Linked DNA regions of Homo sapiens: regions 2, 3, 4, 5 and 6 are each reported to be linked to region 1. Evidence: microRNA targets listed by miRTarBase, many of them from high-throughput screens and not tested one by one. Region 1 holds a microRNA gene; each other region holds the end of a gene's coding sequence.
The links. Region 1 holds the annotated microRNA hsa-miR-132-3p (UAACAGUCUACAGCCAUGGUCG, at 1,005-1,026, shown strand). A microRNA usually pairs through its seed, bases 2 to 8, with sites in the 3' UTR of a target mRNA and lowers its output. Matches are read on the target gene's strand: a 7mer-m8 pairs with bases 2 to 8, a 7mer-A1 pairs with bases 2 to 7 and ends in A, and an 8mer does both.

Region 2: the mRNA of EML4 is a reported target of hsa-miR-132-3p. Seed matches in the 3' UTR shown: 7mer-A1 at 2,407-2,413 and 7mer-A1 at 1,063-1,069.
Region 3: miRTarBase lists FGF22 as a target of hsa-miR-132-3p. The part of its 3' UTR that is shown has no 7-base or 8-base seed match.
Region 4: miRTarBase lists INTS8 as a target of hsa-miR-132-3p. The part of its 3' UTR that is shown has no 7-base or 8-base seed match.
Region 5: miRTarBase lists FAM199X as a target of hsa-miR-132-3p. Seed matches in the 3' UTR shown: 7mer-m8 at 902-908.
Region 6: the mRNA of LFNG is a reported target of hsa-miR-132-3p. The part of its 3' UTR that is shown has no 7-base or 8-base seed match.

Annotation. Positions count from the first base shown.
Region 1 is chr17:2,047,532-2,050,954 of GRCh38, reverse strand. It overlaps MIR132 (microRNA 132), which reads left to right and starts at 947; the gene lies at 947-1,047. MIR212 (microRNA 212) reads left to right here and starts at 575; the gene lies at 575-684. It overlaps LOC124903896 (a long non-coding RNA gene), which reads left to right and starts at 1,006. Exons shown (of 2, transcript XR_007065576.1): 1 at 1,006-1,794; 2 at 2,197-2,248. RefSeq lists silencers at 292-441, 452-1,251.
Region 2 is chr2:42,329,576-42,332,998 of GRCh38, reverse strand. EML4 (EMAP like 4) reads right to left here. Exons shown (of 23, transcript NM_019063.5): 23 at 451-3,265. The coding sequence ends at 2,792. Among named protein-coding and RNA genes, the nearest start is that of COX7A2L, 30 kb to the left of the region's middle.
Region 3 is chr19:642,759-646,181 of GRCh38, forward strand. It overlaps FGF22 (fibroblast growth factor 22), which reads left to right. Exons shown (of 3, transcript NM_020637.2): 2 at 477-580; 3 at 652-1,615. The coding sequence ends at 846. Among named protein-coding and RNA genes, the nearest start is that of FGF22, 4.6 kb to the left of the region's middle. RefSeq lists an enhancer at 1,387-2,327.
Region 4 is chr8:94,879,687-94,883,109 of GRCh38, reverse strand. It overlaps INTS8 (integrator complex subunit 8), which reads right to left. Exons shown (of 27, transcript NM_017864.4): 27 at 1,364-2,992. The coding sequence ends at 2,876. CCNE2 (cyclin E2) reads left to right here. Exons shown (of 12, transcript NM_057749.3): 10 at 218-329; 11 at 821-978; 12 at 1,365-2,886. The coding sequence ends at 1,478. Among named protein-coding and RNA genes, the nearest start is that of CCNE2, 14 kb to the left of the region's middle.
Region 5 is chrX:104,189,202-104,192,624 of GRCh38, forward strand. FAM199X (family with sequence similarity 199, X-linked) reads left to right here. Exons shown (of 6, transcript NM_207318.4): 6 at 407-3,423. The coding sequence ends at 577. Among named protein-coding and RNA genes, the nearest start is that of FAM199X, 24 kb to the left of the region's middle.
Region 6 is chr7:2,526,546-2,529,968 of GRCh38, reverse strand. LFNG (LFNG O-fucosylpeptide 3-beta-N-acetylglucosaminyltransferase) reads right to left here. Exons shown (of 8, transcript NM_001040167.2): 7 at 3,048-3,133; 8 at 1,540-2,823. The coding sequence ends at 2,757. It overlaps MIR4648 (microRNA 4648), which reads right to left and starts at 2,895; the gene lies at 2,824-2,895. RefSeq lists silencers at 1-40, 561-620 and enhancers at 1-625, 626-1,600.

The DNA.
Region 1 (3,423 bases):
CCCGCGCAGCACCTGCCGGCGCCCGATGGACACGCAGCTACTTCGGAGGAGCATCGAGTGGAGGACCGACCTCGGAGACCCCCCCCCGGCTTTCTTGGGGCTCCTGCGCCATTCTCCCAGGAAAGTGAGGCGAAGGTGCTGGCGCCCCAGGAGACGCGCCCCCTCCTCTCCCTCCCTGCGGCGCGGTGACTCAGCCTCGCTGCCCGGGCCGGCTGAGCGGGGGTGCAGGCGAGAGACGGACGCCCACCCCCGCTTCCCCGGCCCTCCTGGGACCCCCGCCCCGCATGGCGTCGGGCGCCCCTTCCCGGCAGGTCCCGTCCAGCGGGTCCCGCGGCGCCCACGGCTTCCCGCCTCTGCGAGCGGAGCTGTCCTCTCAGGACCGGGGGGGCGGGGCCTCCCAGGTCCCGCCCCGCCCCCACGCCCCCGCCGGAAGTGCCCCCTCTGGGACATCTTTGACGTCACGGCCCTCTGACGTCAGGGGCCGCGTGCCTGGTCGCGAGCGCCGGGCGGGGCAGGGCGGGAGACGCAGGGGAGGCGGAGCAGCAGAGCCCCCAGCCGGGGCAGCCGGGGCGACCGGGGCACCCCGCCCGGACAGCGCGCCGGCACCTTGGCTCTAGACTGCTTACTGCCCGGGCCGCCCTCAGTAACAGTCTCCAGTCACGGCCACCGACGCCTGGCCCCGCCCCAGGACCGCGGCCCCGGCCGCCGCCGCCGCGCCCGGGGACCCCCAGTCCCCGTCCCTCAGGGCCCCGCCCCCGGCCCGCTGCCTGCGCCGCCGCTGTCCGCGGTGCTGATCAACGCAGGCGCCGCCATCGGGCCGCCCCGTCCGGGTCCCTAGGGGCTGCGAGGGGCGGTGGCCCACGCGCGCTCCTCAGCCCCCGCCGCCCCGCCCGCCCCCCCGCGGCCCTGACGTCAGCCCGCCCCGCGCCGGCGCCGTCCGCGCGCCCCGCCCCCGCGTCTCCAGGGCAACCGTGGCTTTCGATTGTTACTGTGGGAACTGGAGGTAACAGTCTACAGCCATGGTCGCCCCGCAGCACGCCCACGCGCCGCGCCACGCCGCGCCCCGAGCCGCGGGCTGGGGACGCGGAGCAGAAGGAGGCGGGGGCGGCGAGTCAAGATCCCACGTGCCCGCGCGGGTGGCAGGAGGTGCTGCGCAGGGAGGCGGCCTCCCGGGGCCGGCGGCTGAGTCCACCGAGGCTCGAGCGCGCGCGTCCTGCGGAGTGCGTCTGGCGGCCAGCCTGAGGCCGTCCTGTCCTCCCGGCCAAGGTATCCCAGCCAGGGCTCGGCGAGAGAAGGGGTCGGGCTGGGACTCGGGTTCTTTCGATTTCGGTGAGAGGGAAGCCACTGGGACCAGGAGGCTTGGAAGGAGGTTTGTCTCCTGGGGCCTGAAGACAGTAGAGGGAGGAAAGTTTTCTGAGATACTCCACAGCCCCGTTCTTCCAGGAACCCCTAGCTGAAGTGGGCATTGGGCGAAGAGTAAACTCTTGAATCTTTCCCTCTGAGCTAGGAGGATAAGAAGGGTCCCCAACCCTCTGGAAGCCAATGAGCTTGTAAAGTTAACCTGGTCCGCGAAGCGTCTGAACAGATCAGCCTGCTCACCTCAGCCTATCTCTAGGTGCTGGATTCCAATCTGAGACAGTTTCTCAAATTAGCCCTAAAGAGGAGTGAATACCACAGGGGCTGAAGTCCTCTGGTGCGGATGAAGTGTGAACAAGGATCTCTAAAAATATTATTGTATATGTCGCCTGCCTCTGCCAACATCACCCACTACAGGGGATGTCTATTGAATATCAGGTGTGAGACTTCCCCAGAGATAGTGTTGGGAATGGTTAATGCAACCCAGCCCACGACACGTTAATCCAATTTTTCTTAACGTCTCACGCCCCACCCCCTCCTTCACTCCCCACCCGGCTCCTTTGTGAAGTACTTCTAAGACACTCGTGCCGGTTTCCCAGTTAATCAACACCCACATGCTAGCCATCCCACCTCCCCAGGGCCCCGAGGTCTTGCAGATTAAAACGCACTTGCTTCTGGGTTCCAGGGGATGTCAGTGGGTGGACTGCAGTGGACTGCTGGGTGTAGTGCTCTGGGAAGCCAGAGGTCCAACCTGGCATTATCAGCAACTGGTGGTTAAGGGGCCATATTCTGTTTCTGAGCTTTCTGTAAAACGGGATAATAATCTCTTCTCCTCGGCAGGTGCACTGTGAGGATTAAATAGGATCATGTAAGTAAAAATCCAAAAACAGCAGAATGTTATTTTGATCTTAAGTATTCTGTTAGGCTACTACATGTTTGTGAAGGGGTGGTGTTGGGAGGGGACCCCAGCTCTGTGCACTTAGGCAGAATGAACGGGATGTGGGGGGTACACCTTGAGCTTTAGGCTATATATATTTATTGTCTAATATATATATAATCTATATTATATATATGTTATACATACATATACTTTTATTTTTTTTCTTCTGAGACAGTCTCGCTCTGTCGCCCAGGCTGGAGTGCAGTGGCACTATCTCGGCTCACTGCAACCTCCGCCTCCCGGGTTCACTCTGGGCCTGGGGCTGTTGAGAGGTTCCTTGCTAAGGGGGTTCTCTCTCCTAAGAGCTCTAGGAATCCAAGGTGGAATCAGAGGTGGAAAACAGAAATGGTTGGGATATTCTGAGAAGAGGTCAGAATGTGGTCAGAGGGGAAAGAACCAGAGGATTGACCGTACGTCAGGGTTGTTTAGCATCTTAGAAATCATTTAGGGCAGGGCACAGTGGCTCACGCCTGTAATCCCAGCACTTTGGGAGGCATAGGTGGGAGGATCTCTTGAGCCCAGGAGTTCGAGACCAGCCTGGGCAATACAATGCGACTCCCATCTCTACAAAAAAGAAAGAAAGGAAAGAAGAAAGGAAAGAAAAGAAAGAAAATTAGTTGTGCACACCTGTAGTCCCAGCTACTTGGGAAGTTGAGGTGGGAGGATTGCTTGAGGCTGGGAGGTTGAGGCTGCAGTGAGCTGTGATTGCACCACTGTACTCCAGCCTGGATGACAGAGTGAGACCCTGTCTCAAAAAAAAAAAATCATTATTTAGGGCTGGGAGACATGGCTCATGCCTGTAATCACACCATTTTGCGGGGCGGGGCAGAGGCTGGAGGACTGCTTGAGCCCAGAAATTCGAGACCAGCCTGGGCAACATAGTGAGACCCCATGTCTTAAAAAAAAAAAAGCCAGTGTGATAGGTGGCACCTGTAGTCTCAGCTAAGCTACTCAGGAGGCTGAAGCGGGAGGGTCACTTGAGCCGAAGAGGTCGAGGCTGCAGTGAGCCATGATCCTGCACCTGGTGACAGAGGTAGACCCTGTCTTAATAATAATCCAGCCTGGCCAATATGGTCAGACTCCGTCTCTACTAATAACACAAAAAATTAGCCAGCCATGGTGGTGCT
Region 2 (3,423 bases), not on the chromosome of region 1:
AACCTATTCTTTATAAAGAAACATTTGTAGTAGCCAATTTGTGATTGTGGTATACAGAAGATCTGCGTTAAAAAGCAACATGGGAGAGATGGGAGAAAGCAGAGAATGCCATGGCCTACTGAGTTCAAGTACTTCACAAAGGCTAACACTGCGAGGCAGCCTAGTCGGATGGGTAACGAAGATTATCAGGATTATCCAATATTAAACATTAGAGAAAGTGCTGACATGAAATAAGTGAAAACAAAGCTATCCACATATTCAGGGGGAGCATAAATCAGAAGTAATTTCCTCTAACATTATGAGATGGGAGTTTGTTACTACCAGAATGATTTTATCCACAGCAGCAGCAGTAGCCCACTGATAAATGTTGTCTTCTGAATTGTCATGCCTTCTGATAACTGGATAGTCATGGAAACTCTCAGTATAAATGAAGAAAGAGTTAAGACGCACTTAGAAAGAGGAAACATTTTGATTATTTTATTTTTTAATCTTCAAAATTTTCTGCCATGAGACAGGAATGCATGATAGCAATGGCTCAACATCTTCACATGAAACACTTGGATTCATTTTCATTCACAAGTTTTTCTAAAAACATCTACAATTTCATAACCCCACCCACTTCCAACCATTATCACAGATTTAACTGACCATTAAACAGTAGTTGCCAGCATTAAATAGCTGGAACGCTTCCTGCGTATTAGTAGTGTCTTTTGAAACTACCACCGAAGAGTATCATGATTATAAATCTCATTGTACATGGCAACCCCAAAGGTGACTGATGTCCTCAAATAAACTCCCTGCTGATCACTGAGAGCTGTATTCCCCAGGTACTTAAAGAAATGCTCTTTCTTCTCCAAGAACTGCCTGTTCATGTCAGTATATTTCTTGCAGGGAGTATAGCACATGCTGATCTGATGATGTAATAATCATTGCTAACAGACAGATATATATGCCTGATACTTACTGGCGCGCTCCGATAAGTATGTACAGAACATACATACTGAAGAAAGATGGGTTGCTTGGAATCTCTCTTCTTTTGAAGAGAACTATTTTGAGGTTTTTTAACAGTTGTAAACAAAAGGAAAGATATACAGATACCTATACACATAGAGATCTACACTGAGTATTTTCAACGTGGTGCATATCTTCTTATCTAGAGATACACACAGTGTCTCCACTCGCCCCTTCACACACACCCACACCCTTCCATACAGCGTGTGAATATAAATGTTGTAAATGTCCTTGGGAGTTCACTGGAGTTTTCATATTACCAAATGATGATGAAATACCTGATTTGTATTACTCCTGAGAAGATATTAGAAGGGAATGACAGTTCTGATGCACTTTGGAATGGCACAATCACGTAAACGCCTGCATACTTAAGACTTCTTAACTCATCCAAAGTTTCTAAACATGATTTGACCAAAAAAATAGAAAGTATCAAAACAATGCAGCAAGTTAAAAAATCAAAACAAAATACTTTTTTATAATCAAAGTATAAACATATAGGAAATACATATTTGTCAGTAATTACTCTTAAAGTAGGAAATGTACTGAAAACCATAGCTAGCCAACAGAACTTAAAAAAAATACCTTTCCAATGCATAATACATGCATTGCCCAAAAGAGTAGGATAGCCACATTAGACTTACAAGACTTACAGCAACTCCACCAGAAAAAAACTGCTACACAGCAAGTCTGTTAAGTATGCTGTTGGTAAAAAAAACTGCTGTGACTGTTACCCACACTTCTGTAAAAAAAAGAATTTGCAATTTGATGAGTATCTTATCCCTCATATAATCTGTATAAAATTACAACAAAACCAATAAATTTCAAGCACCAATTCAATAATCTAAACTTACTGTATTTATATTTCTCCTATTACTGAGGGAACAAATTATGATGAAGGCTTAGCTGAAATTAGCCAGGTAATTATTACAGTTTAGTTTTAAAGGCATGTGGTTTTCCTTCCATTCACTTGAATCTCAAACATTTGAGAATGTTTAGGCTAGTAAAGGACTCCTTGGAGGAATCCATCATTTCTGAGTATTGAAGGTTTTAATATACATTGAAAGCTCTTTAACAAACCAATGCTCTCTTAGTTCTAGGATAAAACAGAGTTGCACACAAGAAATTAAGGGACTGTTCCTCATTATGACTTAGAAAAGGCAGCACCTCTCTAGTAGACTAAGAGCATGTCTGGACATCCACTGGTAGTGTAAGAAAACGGCATTTTTTAAAGAAGGCAACACCATTGCACTTGGCAAAACTGAAGTTTTTCTTAATTAAAAATTTTCCATTACACATTTGGGGTGAGAGGGTATCTCAGTAAGAGTACATTTTTTTCTGGTTTCTTTTTCAGGAAAAAAAAAAAAAAAAGTAGTACAGTCTGAGCCAGTAGATGAGTAACAGTGTTTGTGATACCTCTGGTTGTTCCTGAAGAAAACATGTTCAGATAACAAGGGGGTTTGTTTTCAAAATCAATGCAACTGCTGTTTTTGTTTCCAGTATTTACATCACACCACTTAGGTACACAGTAATTTGTGAGACATCATTAATGATTCAGTCTTCTCCTAGTATTAAGTTTGGTTAATTTTCAATAAACACCAAACTAAAACTTTAAGTTGGCTGTATTTGAGAGACTGAAAATAAGACTATTGAAGAAAACAAATCACATGGAAACCAAAATCTCAATCAACAGTGATTCTCCATCACTGCCCATCCTGTTACCTGAACTTTATCACAAAATCACATGCAGCTGAAGGAAAAGAGTTGCACTGAAGCCAGGGTGTTAGGACGAGGGCGAAGGGTCTTGCTGGTCCTCCAGAAGGGTGGCTTTGGCCTGCTCCTTGCTTATCTCGTTGCATGGCTCTTCATAAAGAGGCTCACCAAGGTCTCCGCTGCCCTCTTCACTCTCCTCCTCGCTGTGGTCTTCACTTGGCTCCACAGTTTGTTCCAGGCTGTTCTCCAGAAGTGTGGGAGAACTGCTTATTCTACTTTCCTCTTCAGCTGTCTCATTTAAGGGCTGAGAAGGAGGCGGTGTGGGAGTATTAGATTGGATGACACTTTCAGTGGAAGAGACGGGGGCTTTGGTTAGAGTAGTATCCGCTACAGTCTCATTCTGAGGCAAAGATAACTTTTCCACAAGTTTCCACTGAATGATGCTCATGTCTTTTCCACCAGTTGATATCAGGTGACTGTCATTGTGAGTAAAACTGACATTGGTGACATGGCTGCTGTGGGCACTGTACTTGTGACTGGGAGCCTATATGAAATAAATCAGACAGACAGGAAAATTAAACTCATTCTTGACATGCCTGTTTCAGAAATGGAGGTGATACGTAAGGGGGGTAAACTCAGCTTGTGAAATGGGCAATCCAATTTAAAGCCAGAAGTCATCAAATCTCAGGAGTAAGGCTAGCC
Region 3 (3,423 bases), not on the chromosome of region 1:
TTATCAGTGGTCTGGGTGGGCCCTGCCCCTTCTGACTCCCACATCCCAGGAACCCTTTCCCAACCTTCCTCGTGGTGTTGCTGCCCCCCTGACGTCCGTCCCTCTGGGTGTGTGGGAGCCCCCCCGCCATACACACACACAGATGCTGCTCTTGGGCTGAGCTGCAGGGACAGCGCTGACCTGGCCCTCCCACGGGGTCCTCATCGATCTCTGCACTCCCCCAGCTCGTGGGGGCCGTCCTGCTTCCCGTTCCCTCTGCCTGCTCCTTGCTCCTCCCTCACATGCTGGGGGGGGCTCCTGGTGTCAGTCACGGCTCTGGGGGATCCTGAGTGTCCGTCGTGGTCGGGAGGGGACTCGTGGTCCCGGGGGTCTCCTGGTATCTGTCGTGGTCCTGAGGGCCCTGCACGAAGCACAGCGGACAGCAGCGGTGCTGGGGGTGAGCCAGCAAGGCCCTCCCCGACCCCCGCCTCCCCCAGGCATCCTGGAGATCCGCTCTGTACACGTGGGCGTCGTGGTCATCAAAGCAGTGTCCTCAGGCTTCTACGTGGCCATGAACCGCCGGGGCCGCCTCTACGGGTCGGTGAGTGCCGGGCAGGGCTGGGCGGCGCGGGCAGGGTGGGGAGGGTGGGCCGGCCTCACCCCCGCCCGCAGCGACTCTACACCGTGGACTGCAGGTTCCGGGAGCGCATCGAAGAGAACGGCCACAACACCTACGCCTCACAGCGCTGGCGCCGCCGCGGCCAGCCCATGTTCCTGGCGCTGGACAGGAGGGGGGGGCCCCGGCCAGGCGGCCGGACGCGGCGGTACCACCTGTCCGCCCACTTCCTGCCCGTCCTGGTCTCCTGAGGCCCTGAGAGGCCGGCGGCTCCCCAAGGTGCCTGGGCTGGTGGCGAGGGGCCCGGCCACGCTTGTTCTTCCCCCTGCGGGCTCTGTAAGCGCTGAGTGCCCACCGTGTGCGGGCGCTGTGGACACAGCCCAGGAGCCCTCCAGGGGGGTCCCAGCCTGAGGGGGTGGTGGCCACCAAGCAGGTTCAATCCTGAGTTGGGGACCTCGAGGACCCAACAGGGCGCCTCTCGGGCTGAAGGACGCAGACGTCGAAAGGTCGAGGGGGACGTCCCAGGCAGGGCCCGGCAGAGGCAGGGGCTCGGGGTGGGGAGCACGTTGGGAGTGGGGGCAGGAGCGGAGGGGAGGGGAGGGGGCCGGGGAGACGGTGACAGACGCCGCAGAACACCAGCCTCGAAGCCGGTCCCGTCCCGGGAATCTGCAAATACAACGCCTTGCGAGGACAAAGGCACCTGCAGGTGGGACGGAGATGGAGGAGCATCCAGGGTGGGGGGTCCAGGGCCCCAGTGTCCTCACAGGGTCCTCACGACAGGAGGCGGGACAGTGAGAGCCAGAGAGAGATGGGGATGGGCCGCGCTGTGGCCGTGAAGGGGAGGAAGGGCCCTAAGCTGAGGGACGTGGGTGCCTCCAGATGCTGGGGAAGGCGGGAACGGTTCCGCACTGGAGCCCCCGGGAGGGACCGGCCTGCTCCTGCCTTGATATGAGCCCAGTGGGACCCAGTTTGGACTCTGGCCTCCAGAACCGCCAGAAAATAAACGTAGTAAGCCATCAACTTTGTGGTCTTTTGTTACAGCAGACGTCGGAAATATGCACACGGTGTCTGAAACTGTTCTCATGACAAAATAAGCCTCAGATCCCCCGGGGAAGGGCGGAGGCCAACGCCTCGGTGTTCCTCCGATCCCCCGGGAAGGGCGGAGGCCGACGCCTCGGTGTTCCTCGGATCCCCCGGGAAGGGCAGAGGCCGACGCCTCGGTGCTCCTCAGATCCCCCGGGAAGGGCAGAGGCTGAGGGCAGGAGCCGTGCTGGGTGCAGGGCAGGCCTGGGGGCTTCATGCCGCTGTCCTGCGGGACGCAGAGAGGGCTGGCCGTCGGTGTGGGGGCGCCCCCACCTGTGCCCAGCGCCCTCCTGACATCCTGACTCCGCTGGGACTTCTGCCTACAGCCCTGGGAGTCAAACTCCAGCCTCTCAGAGAAAAGGTCAGAGCCAAGAGCCCCACAGCCTGGAGCCAGGCAGTGACACCCTGGGCCTGTCTCCCCTTCTGTGTGTGGGGCGACAGCAGCATCGCCCTGGTGAAGTCCCCGGGGACGGCCAGGGCTCCATCCCCAGCCGCCGCCTTCCACATAAATACAGGAAGACTGGGCCGAGGCACTTGCTGGGAGGTGCTGAGCAGCCTGACACGGAAAACCCTTCTGGGAAGGGAGGGTCGTGCCCGGCCCGAGAGCTTCTGCTCACCCTGCAGACAGAAGCGAGCCCCACCCCAGGGGACACCAGGCGGCCTCTGGGGACATCTTTGGCTGGCATGGAGTGGGTGGAGGACAGGGCTGCACCCAGGATGTCCCCAGGTTGGCAGTGTGAGGGGAGATCGGCCCACGTTGGCCAGTCGGAGGGCGTCGCCACTTGAGTTGTCACTGGGAGCTGCACAGGTCACCACAGCTGAAATAAAACTTGCTGGCACCCCACGCAGGAACGTAACATGTGCCTCGAAGAAACGGGTCAGCAGGCCGGGCGCGGGGGCTCACGCCTGTCATCCCAGCACTTTGGGAGGCCGAGGCGGGTGGATCACGAGGTCAGGAGATCAAGGCCATCTTGGTCAACATGGTGAAACCCCGTGTCTACTAAAAATACAAAAAATTAGCCGGGCGTGGTGGCGGGCGCCTGTAATTCCAGCTACTTGAGAGGCTGAGGCGGGGAATCGCTTGAATCCGGGAGGCGGAGGTTGCAGTGAGCTGAGATCGCGCCACTGCACTCCAGCCTGGGCGACAGAGCGAGACTCCGTCTCAAAAAAAAAAAAAAAAAAGAAACAGGTCAGCAGTTGTTTCTTTGTTTCTAAAACAGAGCGTGGAATGGGCGTACAGCTCCGCACATCCCAGGGCAGTGAAATCCCGGTTCACACAGAGCCCTCAGCAGCTTATTCGCAAGCCCAAACCTGGGGACCCCCGTTGTCCTCAGGCAGTGAGGTGGGGGCCCCCCAACAGAGAGGAGCGGCCTGGGGGCACAGAACCAGCGGCTCCCCAGGAAATCGCCAGCAGTGAAAATAAGACAACCCCAAACTGTTGCAAACTGTGCTTCCGCTTACGAAGCACTCCTGAGCGGCAGGGCGGATGGGGAGAGGGCGGCTGCAGGCGCGAGGGGCCCGGGGACGCAGGGGTGCGGGCCTTACCAGGGCCCTGTCCTGTCGTGCAGCAGGCTCCTGGGGCAGGGAAGACACCAGGGGCGGCCACTTCTTACTGCTGTCTGACCTCGAGCAATGCGGCCTCACAGCCCCCACCAGGGTGCCGGTGTCCTCTGGGCCCAGCGCCCCCGAGGCTCATGCCTGGGTGGGGCGAACCAATCGGTCCTGCTCCTCTGGCCACTCCACGC
Region 4 (3,423 bases), not on the chromosome of region 1:
TAGAGGCGGGGTTTCACCGTGTTAGCCAGGATGGTCTCGATCTCGTGACCTTGTGATCCACCCGCCTCGGCCTCCCAAAGTGCTGGGATTACAGGCGTGAGCCACCGCGCCTGGCCGGGTGGTGGCTTATTTATCTCTAGATCCCTAAGGTTTTAGCAAGAGACATTTAGTACTCATCTTTCTCCTAAATTGCTTGTACTTTTGTTTTTCCTGTTAGCTTTTAGATCTGTGTATTCTAGCCATTGATTCATTAGAGTTCCAGTACAGAATACTGACTGCTGCTGCCTTGTGCCATTTTACCTCCATTGAAGTGGTTAAGAAAGCCTCAGGTAAGACTCTCTATTTGTTGTCTTCTTACCTTTTCACAACTTCTAATGGGACTACAGTCTCTGAACTTTAACATTCTGCTAAACATGCATTTAAAACTTTGGCAAAAAAAAAATTAGCTGTTCAGTAATTATCTTTCTGTTAGAAGTACTTTCCAATCCTGAATGTGTATCAACAAAAAGACCAAATGGAATTTAAATACAGTTGAAATGAATCAACATTATAGTTCTGCTTTAAGAGTTCTTTGGGATTTGACCATTTCAATTTCATATGTAGAAGGTACTGGTTAAGAAGTTCTGAAGTCCTTTTTCCCTTCAACATAGTCATGTAAATAGTTTGAGAGTGATAATCTGTTTTGACATGCTAAACTTCTTGGTTATGATTTGGTTTCTTTTAAAATATCTCAAAAACAGCAACAAGTACATCAGACATATGTAAGATAGTTTCTGATGTACAACCTTCATGCTTTTCTAACTTTTTTCTATCTATCTAGGTTTGGAGTGGGACAGTATTTCAGAATGTGTAGATTGGATGGTACCTTTTGTCAATGTAGTAAAAAGTACTAGTCCAGTGAAGCTGAAGACTTTTAAGAAGATTCCTATGGAAGACAGACATAATATCCAGACACATACAAACTATTTGGCTATGCTGGTATGTTTTTTTGTGAGTTTTTTGGCTTTGCTATCTGAATCTAGTAAGTCACCAAAACTGATGGTAGGAATAGAGTACTCCTTCAGGCAGTTTCAGGGGAAAGAAAGTTCTAAGGGGCACACTGATTTCAAAATGTAGAAAAGTTAATAAAATTACTTTGAAATCAAAGCAAGATTTGTGAAGTGTCTCAAGATCAATGCCAACAGTCTAGATAAAGAGTTTAAAAAATATATAACGTTACAGAAACTTTCAGAATATGACCCTTCACACTTGCAAAGACATAAAAAGACTATTAAAATTAGGCCTAAATAATCTCAAATAAGTACCCAGAAGTCTGGTTTGACTTTGATTTATGAAATCAGTGCATGATTTCTTCCCATGTATAGGAGGAAGTAAATTACATAAACACCTTCAGAAAAGGGGGACAGTTGTCACCAGTGTGCAATGGAGGCATTATGACACCACCGAAGAGCACTGAAAAACCACCAGGAAAACACTAAAGAAGATAACTAAGCAAACAAGTTGGAATTCACCAAGATTGGGTAGAACTGGTATCACTGAACTACTAAAGTTTTACAGAAAGTAGTGCTGTGATTGATTGCCCTAGCCAATTCACAAGTTACACTGCCATTCTGATTTTAAAACTTACAATTGGCACTAAAGAATACATTTAATTATTTCCTATGTTAGCTGTTAAAGAAACAGCAGGACTTGTTTACAAAGATGTCTTCATTCCCAAGGTTACTGGATAGAAGCCAACCACAGTCTATACCATAGCAATGTTTTTCCTTTAATCCAGTGTTACTGTGTTTATCTTGATAAACTAGGAATTTTGTCACTGGAGTTTTGGACTGGATAAGTGCTACCTTAAAGGGTATACTAAGTGATACAGTACTTTGAATCTAGTTGTTAGATTCTCAAAATTCCTACACTCTTGACTAGTGCAATTTGGTTCTTGAAAATTAAATTTAAACTTGTTTACAAAGGTTTAGTTTTGTAATAAGGTGACTAATTTATCTATAGCTGCTATAGCAAGCTATTATAAAACTTGAATTTCTACAAATGGTGAAATTTAATGTTTTTTAAACTAGTTTATTTGCCTTGCCATAACACATTTTTTAACTAATAAGGCTTAGATGAACATGGTGTTCAACCTGTGCTCTAAACAGTGGGAGTACCAAAGAAATTATAAACAAGATAAATGCTGTGGCTCCTTCCTAACTGGGGCTTTCTTGACATGTAGGTTGCTTGGTAATAACCTTTTTGTATATCACAATTTGGGTGAAAAACTTAAGTACCCTTTCAAACTATTTATATGAGGAAGTCACTTTACTACTCTAAGATATCCCTAAGGAATTTTTTTTTTTAATTTAGTGTGACTAAGGCTTTATTTATGTTTGTGAAACTGTTAAGGTCCTTTCTAAATTCCTCCATTGTGAGATAAGGACAGTGTCAAAGTGATAAAGCTTAACACTTGACCTAAACTTCTATTTTCTTAAGGAAGAAGAGTATTAAATATATACTGACTCCTAGAAATCTATTTATTAAAAAAAGACATGAAAACTTGCTGTACATAGGCTAGCTATTTCTAAATATTTTAAATTAGCTTTTCTAAAAAAAAAATCCAGCCTCATAAAGTAGATTAGAAAACTAGATTGCTAGTTTATTTTGTTATCAGATATGTGAATCTCTTCTCCCTTTGAAGAAACTATACATTTATTGTTACGGTATGAAGTCTTCTGTATAGTTTGTTTTTAAACTAATATTTGTTTCAGTATTTTGTCTGAAAAGAAAACACCACTAATTGTGTACATATGTATTATATAAACTTAACCTTTTAATACTGTTTATTTTTAGCCCATTGTTTAAAAAATAAAAGTTAAAAAAATTTAACTGCTTAAAAGTAAAGTTTTGCCATTGCTTGGAGAAACTTTTTTTTCCTTCTCTGCGCTGCCAGCTGTAACACTTCTTCTGGATTGCTTGCATTCAACTCTGTCTGGCCGATGGCTTTGATCTTCCAAAACAGAAAAGTGATGTTATTAGAGGTGTGTCAAAAATTAAGTTTTGTTGGTACAAGTAATATAAAGCTACCTACGTGCTAACAACGATACAGTTTAATGATTAACTGAACCTCTTAACTGTAAAACCCAGGAGTCTTGGAAAAAAATTAACATAAAGATTAACCAGGGCCACTCTCAAGGAAAGATGGACTGCTGAGCCATAGTTTATGGAATTACTTAAGTGGCATTTTAATATATTAAGTAAATTCATGTAAATTTATTTGAAAGTATAAGTAAGCTCTACATGGCGATTTTTAGAGTTAAACTAGGGCTCCACTTGTTAATGTGCAAAAATAACTGGTGGCTCAGCACTATGGTAGCATATAGTTGCTCAACTTTTCATGATTAGAAAGAAGTGCCTCAACCAACTAAATATACACACTAG
Region 5 (3,423 bases), not on the chromosome of region 1:
AAGGCACCTGAGAATCATAAGTATTAGAGATTTGGGCAATGTTCTCCACAGGTGTATTCAGTATTGTCGCCTAGTATTAATTATGTGTTCATTATGCATTTGTACCAATGTACCTTAATGGAATTTAAAAAAGAAGTCTTTGAAGTGACTTTTTATCTATCACTAGCCAAAATGATCGTCTCAACTCTTCCTAATCAGAAGAGTCACTGGTCAAATACCACAAAATTGGAATCTTAATCATTTTTAAGCCTAAGCCAGTGGCTCACTTATTGGAACAAGGATCATACTACAGAAGGATTTGAACAGCTCTTAAAGTTAGAAAATAGAGAATTTGATCCACAAAACATTTTGGGGTGGATATGCCAAAAACTAAACCAAACTGATTTAGAAATTTTTATTTTGACAGAAGCGATCCAAGCAGCGGAAGTTACAGCAGAAGGCCTTCCGCAAGAGGCAGCTGAAGGAGCAGAGGCAGGCCCGGAAGGAGAGGCTCAGTGGGCTCTTCCTTAACGAAGAGGTGCTGTCCTTGAAAGTGACTGAGGAAGACCATGAAGCAGATGTTGATGTTTTGATGTAATAAGGGTGAATTTATCAACGTTCTTTGTGAGCATTAAAATACTCCATCCTTATGGGTTTACATGCATCTTGACCAAAATTTTGGTTAGGGCTGTGCTGATGTACCATTAATAATTTAAGCCAGTGGTTCTTGGCAGGTGATCCCAAGACCTGCAGCTTCAGCATCACTTGAGAAGTTGTTAGGAATGCATACTAGTGGGCCCCGCCCCCAGACATAGTGAATCAGAAACCAACAGGGAGGCGCCTAGCATTGTTTTTTTAACAAGTGCTGGGTTATTCTGATGCACAGTCTAGTTTAAGAACCACTACTTTGGGTAAACGTTTTGACTGTTTAAAGTTTATGGCGGTGAAGTGGGCGTCTTCAAAGACTAGTACTTACACAGTTTAGAAGATTTCAAGGTACTGCTGACAGTAGTTTATTATGTCAGTATACATACATGTGTAGAGATCATAATTTAGTTCCCTTCTTAATGTTACAATTTCTTAGTTTACTTTTCCTAAAGGGCCATAGCATAATTCTTGATTCCTGGTGGAAATCTTTTCTGAGGTGTGGGGGTGGGCAAGGTGTGGATTGCTGTTTACGATAGTGCCTTCATTAGTTTTAGTTCTGTCTGTTTTCATTCATTATTGACTCAAAGGTATTAGAACAGGCCCTTATCTTTTTCCTATTAGATTTATTTTTGTTTTTTACTTTATGTAAGTTCAGAATCCTTTTTTAAGTGATGACTACTGATGAAATAATGTTACTAGTAGCTGAATTTTAGACTTGATGCTATGTTGATTAATATTTAAATGGTGAAAGTAATTAGGCAAAATAAGCAATTCTGCTTTTCTGTTGCTTTCAGAATTTTTAGGCTGTAAAATTGTCTCAGGCAGGAAGTCAGTCTATATCTCTCTCAAGTTCTTATTGTAGGTCATTTTTTTTTCAGCACAGCTCTAATTTTTAAATATTTGGTATAACAGCTTCTGGCATGTGACCTAGTTAATGTTGAAAATTAACTGATGAAAACCCTTGTAGATCTGCTAAACTTCTCTATAAATTGCTAGAAATATACAGAGCAATGAGATATAGAAAACACCTTAGCTTGTTGGTTATTAATAGAGCTCTAATTTTAACTGTGAAATCATGGAGTTTCTTTAAATGTTTTCCTAGAGTGTTTGTTATCATGAACATTAGAAATAGCATTATTCCTTTTCTTCTACCACATGTCTTGAACATTCACATGGGTTAAAGAAGATGGAAACTGATACTACTGACAATCAAGCTGCTTTCTGACTTTCATAATTTTCTTTATATTGTGGATAGCATTTTGAAGGTGACCGTGATTCTGTAGGAAGAGCTGTAATCAATATTTTTCAAACTCTAAGAGTACAGAGGTTAGTAAGATTTCTTTTTTTTTTACTTTTTGTTACGTCAAGTAGCTTATTAAGAAAAAGATTCATGACTTAAATTCTTAATTCTCAGTTGATACAAAGGCTTATAATCATGTGTTTTAAAATTTTGATTTCATTTTCGTTCCTTGAAGGTTAAAGAATGGAAACTGGGGATAAAAATTAATACACTGCAGCTTTGCCAAGGTCTGTGATATGGTTGTAACCTTTTAAAGACTACTAAAGTCATAATTTGAAATTTTTACTAAAATAAAACATATGTGTCTATGGTTTTCAATTGGAGTAGTCTTTCTTACTTTCCCCCTTCCCCTCTTTGGTTCTCCTAACCAGCTTAGAGGACCCAAAGAGAGCTTAGGGATAGACACCAGAATACTCTGTGGAGGTGGAACAACTTAACCTCACTGTTTTCCCTTCCAAGTATAGGAAGAGCAAATAGAGCATAGTAACTGTATCTAAATTCTCTACCTGCTCTTAGCAAAAGCAAAATCCCACAGAATGATTGCCTGCTGTCTTTACCTATTCTTCAAGGAAAACAGGCCACTTTTGGAGACCATAGAGCACCATTTATCTGTCAAATACTTGGAAACTATTTACTTAACGGTCATCAGTAAAAAACCCTAAACAAGGTCATGATATAATTTAAGACCAATTCCCCTACTCTCCCAATAATCACATAGTCTTATTACTTTCAATTTAACTTGAGTCACTATTAAGCAAGTTTACCAAAGTGCCACAAAGTTGATTTTTAACGTTTGTAAAGGTTTGAATGTTTATAGAAGTGCATCATGAAATTTTGTGTAAATCCAGATGAACTGTCATTATAGTACTATAAATTAGAGATAGTCCATAAAGTTGGGTTGAAGGAGATTGAAAATATTTCCTTTGATTAAAAGAAAATAATTAACTAACTTGGGCTTGCTTGTGATTGAAGAGGGAGATTAGATAGTCCTCTGTCCCCCCAAAAAAGAAACTAGCAGAGAAAGACATAAAAAGCTCTTTGGTGTCTGTTCATGTGCTGTACATTTTTTCCGTTTTAATGTCTTGTGTAGATAATTCAAAGTTTGAACTATTTCTTTCTTGGAATAAGTAATAATTTATTCAATATGGTGTATCTCTGAGTTCAATTTAAAACAATCCAACTCAGTAATATTTATTTTTAAATACAAATCCTAACTAACCAATTAATTAATAAAAAGGCAAGACTTACTTGCTGTAGTATTGGTTCTCATCTGTAGAGAACTGACATTGGAGCAAATTTTAAGTCTCCCCTTTGAAAATAAGCCTTGTTAACTGAGGGCGTAATACATTTCCCACAGATTTATCCAGAAACATTTTATTAGAGATCTTATAGTAGTATCTCAGTTCCTACTACAGCTTTCTAAAGGATGAGACTTGCATTTAACAAAATGACATATATAATATTTTTCTATAGTTTTGCAACTGAATTAAAGGAAG
Region 6 (3,423 bases), not on the chromosome of region 1:
GTGGGGAGGCGATGCCAGCTGCAGGCGGGGACAGCGTCGGGGCCAGGGCAGAAGGCCCCAAGCCTCTGAGTCAGCCGGGCAGGAAGGAGGCCAGCAGCCTCTGCCCGCAGCCTGTTCCGTCACGACCCCCCCGCCCCACCCCAGAGTCTCAGCTTCCTCGTTCAGAAGAGGGGCCTATGCCGTCCTATGAGAAGTGGGTGGGCACATGGTGGGTGCTCAGGGAGGACCACAGCCACCCAGACGGGGGTCAGGCCACGTGACGGTGAGGGCCCTCCATCCTCCCGCCATCCCCATCACTGTCCACACCCCCCAGGCAGCTGCTCTGCTGACTCAGGACCGTCCAAGGCCAAGGTGGGGTCACAGCCCTGCCAGCCGCCCCCAAGGCCAGGGTAGCCCCCAGCCAGGCTTAGAGTAAGGGGGTCTCTGCAGGCCCATTCAGCACGTCAGCACTCTTCTGGAGGGGGCAGCGACGGGGGAGGGCAAGGCACCCCCCCATAGAGAGGCACTTTTCACAGTGTGTCGTCTCCTTGGAGCAGAGTGGGGGGTGCAGAGGCACCAGGAGGGGGACCTGGAGCCCTGGGGTCGGGGGAAGCAGGGTCAGGCCAGAGCAGGAACTTGCAAGGGGCGCGGCCAGGGCAGTGCCAGGCCAAGGGTGTAAGCCCCAGGGAAGGGGTGGGGGCTCATGGTGAAGAGGAAGTGAGCCGCCCCGGGGCTGCCAGGAGGGTGAGGGGAGGGAATCCCCGCAGAGGCTGCAGCACCCGTCCCCTACTCAGTCACCCTCAAAGGCTGGATTTGAGGAAGGAAAAGCACCGCAGAGCTGCTGTATTTAAAAAACAAGCGTCTGGATCTCTGCAGGGGCTGGGACCAGCTGCAGTGGGGGCTCCGGCACTGCTCCTGCTCTCCAGGACTCTTCCCACCACCCCTGAGCGGGGTCGGGGCCTGGGGCCACATCACAGGAGAGGGAGGTGCAGCATTACCAGCTGTGGGGCGGCCGGACCCACGGCCTGCCTGGCTTGGAGTCTGAGCGCCTCCCCAGCCCACCAGCATGGCTGCTGGACCTTGGGCATCAGCTGCTCCGTGCCTCAGTTTCCCCACCTGCAAAGTGAGGCGATGATGTGGACTCTGTGAGCTCGTGGCAGGAGTGAAGTTGGATAAGGAGGCCCCAGGCCCGGTCACAGGAGTCACTGTCCCTCCTGCAGGGGCTGGGCTCCCCAGTGGCCAGACCAGGCCAGAGCCTTGGGGTTGTGCTTTTGGCTGGGACCTAGAGCCCCCAGCATCCTAGACCTGTTCCTCCTGGAAGCACAGGGCTCACGCTCCAGCGACCACCCTGACCCTGGGTGGGCCGCACCTGTAGTCACCAGCAGGCAGCTATAGTGACGCCAGGTTTCGTTCCAAAATAGTTGTCTCTAAGCGTTTCCTATCTACCTGCTCCATGCGGTGCACCCAAGGCCAAGCCTCCCCTTCACCTGTGTGCCTCTCCTGACCCTGGCTGCCCTGGGGCTTAGGCCCCACCTCCAGCCAAGACCAGGACCCCCAGGATTGCTGCAAAGAGCACCTTTATTCACAGCAAAAGGACGTCACCATAGCAACAACACTTCAATTCCCTGAGAACTTTTCCCTTATCATTCGCTTTCCTAGCTATGTCTTTGCAAAGAGAAAAACAACAAGAAACACAGCCCACGGGACAGGTGAGCCATGCTGGGCCCAGCGGGGAGGTGGCAGCTACACAGGAGGAGGGCAGGGATGGGAGGTTCCAGATGCTGGAACGCATAAATACACAGAGTGCCAGACAGTCCCACTTCAGCTTTAAAAACAAAGATGACCCCGAGTTTGGCTTCTGTTTTTTCTGATCCACAGAAAAGATAAGATAAAATAAGACCCTCCCCCACCCCCACCCTCCCAAGCAAAAAACAAGAACACCCTACTTTTTACCCATCCCCTTTCAAAAAAAACAGCACAGTAAAAAAATACTGTCACAATATTTACAGACACGCCCACTGTGGGCGACTTGCTCTCTACTTTGGAGAGGAGATTAAATGCTGAGCTCTGACTCACCCTGTCCTGGGGAGGCAAAGGGAAGACCTCTGAGGAGGCCTGGAAGACTCCCCACTCAGAAGAGCTGGGAGGGGTGCCACTGTTTGCCCAGCTGGACAGCCAGCCACTGGGGGCTTCGTGGGGCCACTGGAACTGGGCGGTGGCTGCTGTTACTCTTAAGCCACAGCGTCCAGGCCAGGAGGAAGGGGATTGGGTCACGCACCCCCAGACCCAGCCTCCCCTGCAATGAGCATGGCTCAGTGAGTCGTACTTGGGGCTATGACACAGGGGCCAGGACTTCAGGGCACAGGTACCCCCAGCACAGAGCTTGTGGTCAGCAGGAAGAGAAAGGCACCTACGCATCGCATCCCTGCAAAGTAGCCCGGAGCCCCGTAGCTGTAGAAAGATCCAAAAATCCTAACAGAATTGCCCTCGGAGTGGCCTCCGACACACAAATCCTTCCTCCAAGCAGGCCCTGCAGCCCACTGGCCCTCGGAGCAGAGGCACATAAGTGGCGCTGGTGCCCGCCCCTCCACAGAGCAGAACTGCCCAGCAGCCTGCTACCCGGGTGGGCATGCAGTACACACACACACACACGCACACGCACACGCACAGGCACGGCCCTAGGGGAGCCTCGAATGCCGAGGCCAGGGCAGCGCAACAGGGTCCCTGGGCCCTTTGGATACCAGGGGCGCCCAGGGATTGGGTCTCAGCCATGGCCACTAGAAGATGGCAGTGCGGGGACACCAGGGTGTGTCCGGGTACAGGTGGCAGTGGATGGAGCGGAACCTGTGGGAACAGAGCAGGGGCTGGTCTGCGTGGGTGGCAGGCAGGTGCTGAGCTCCCATTTGCAGTCCCACAACACTGGCGGCCCCACCCCGAGCAAGCAGGACTCCGGGGGACACCTCTATGTAGAGTCATGCCGCTTAGAGAGACCCTGCTGCAGCTCCACGAGGCCCCCTGACGCCCCTAGGCCACCCTACGCAAGCCCATCTGGGCCGGGGTTTCCTTACCTGGATGGGTCGGCCTCCACCGAGAAGGGCCCCTTCACGTGGACGGCGTTCCGCTTGTTTTCAAACATACCGTAGCTCAGCGTCACCTGTGGGGAGCGGGCGGAGTGATGCCGGGAGGGGCCCGACATCCCTGGGCCCCGCCCCAGGCTGGCCACACAGCCCTGAGTGAGGCAACGGCCCTGCCCTGGCCTCCCTTGGACCTGGAAGGACACCTGCCCTGCACACCCCAGGAATAAGGTCCCAAACTGGGGACCAGCTGGGGCTGGCTGCATTGCCAGCGTGGACAAAATACGCACAGTAGGCGCATCACAGTGAAGAGAAGAGACGGCAGGAAAACAACCCGCCATAAACAGCTTTGAGCTCATGGCAGGAGTGA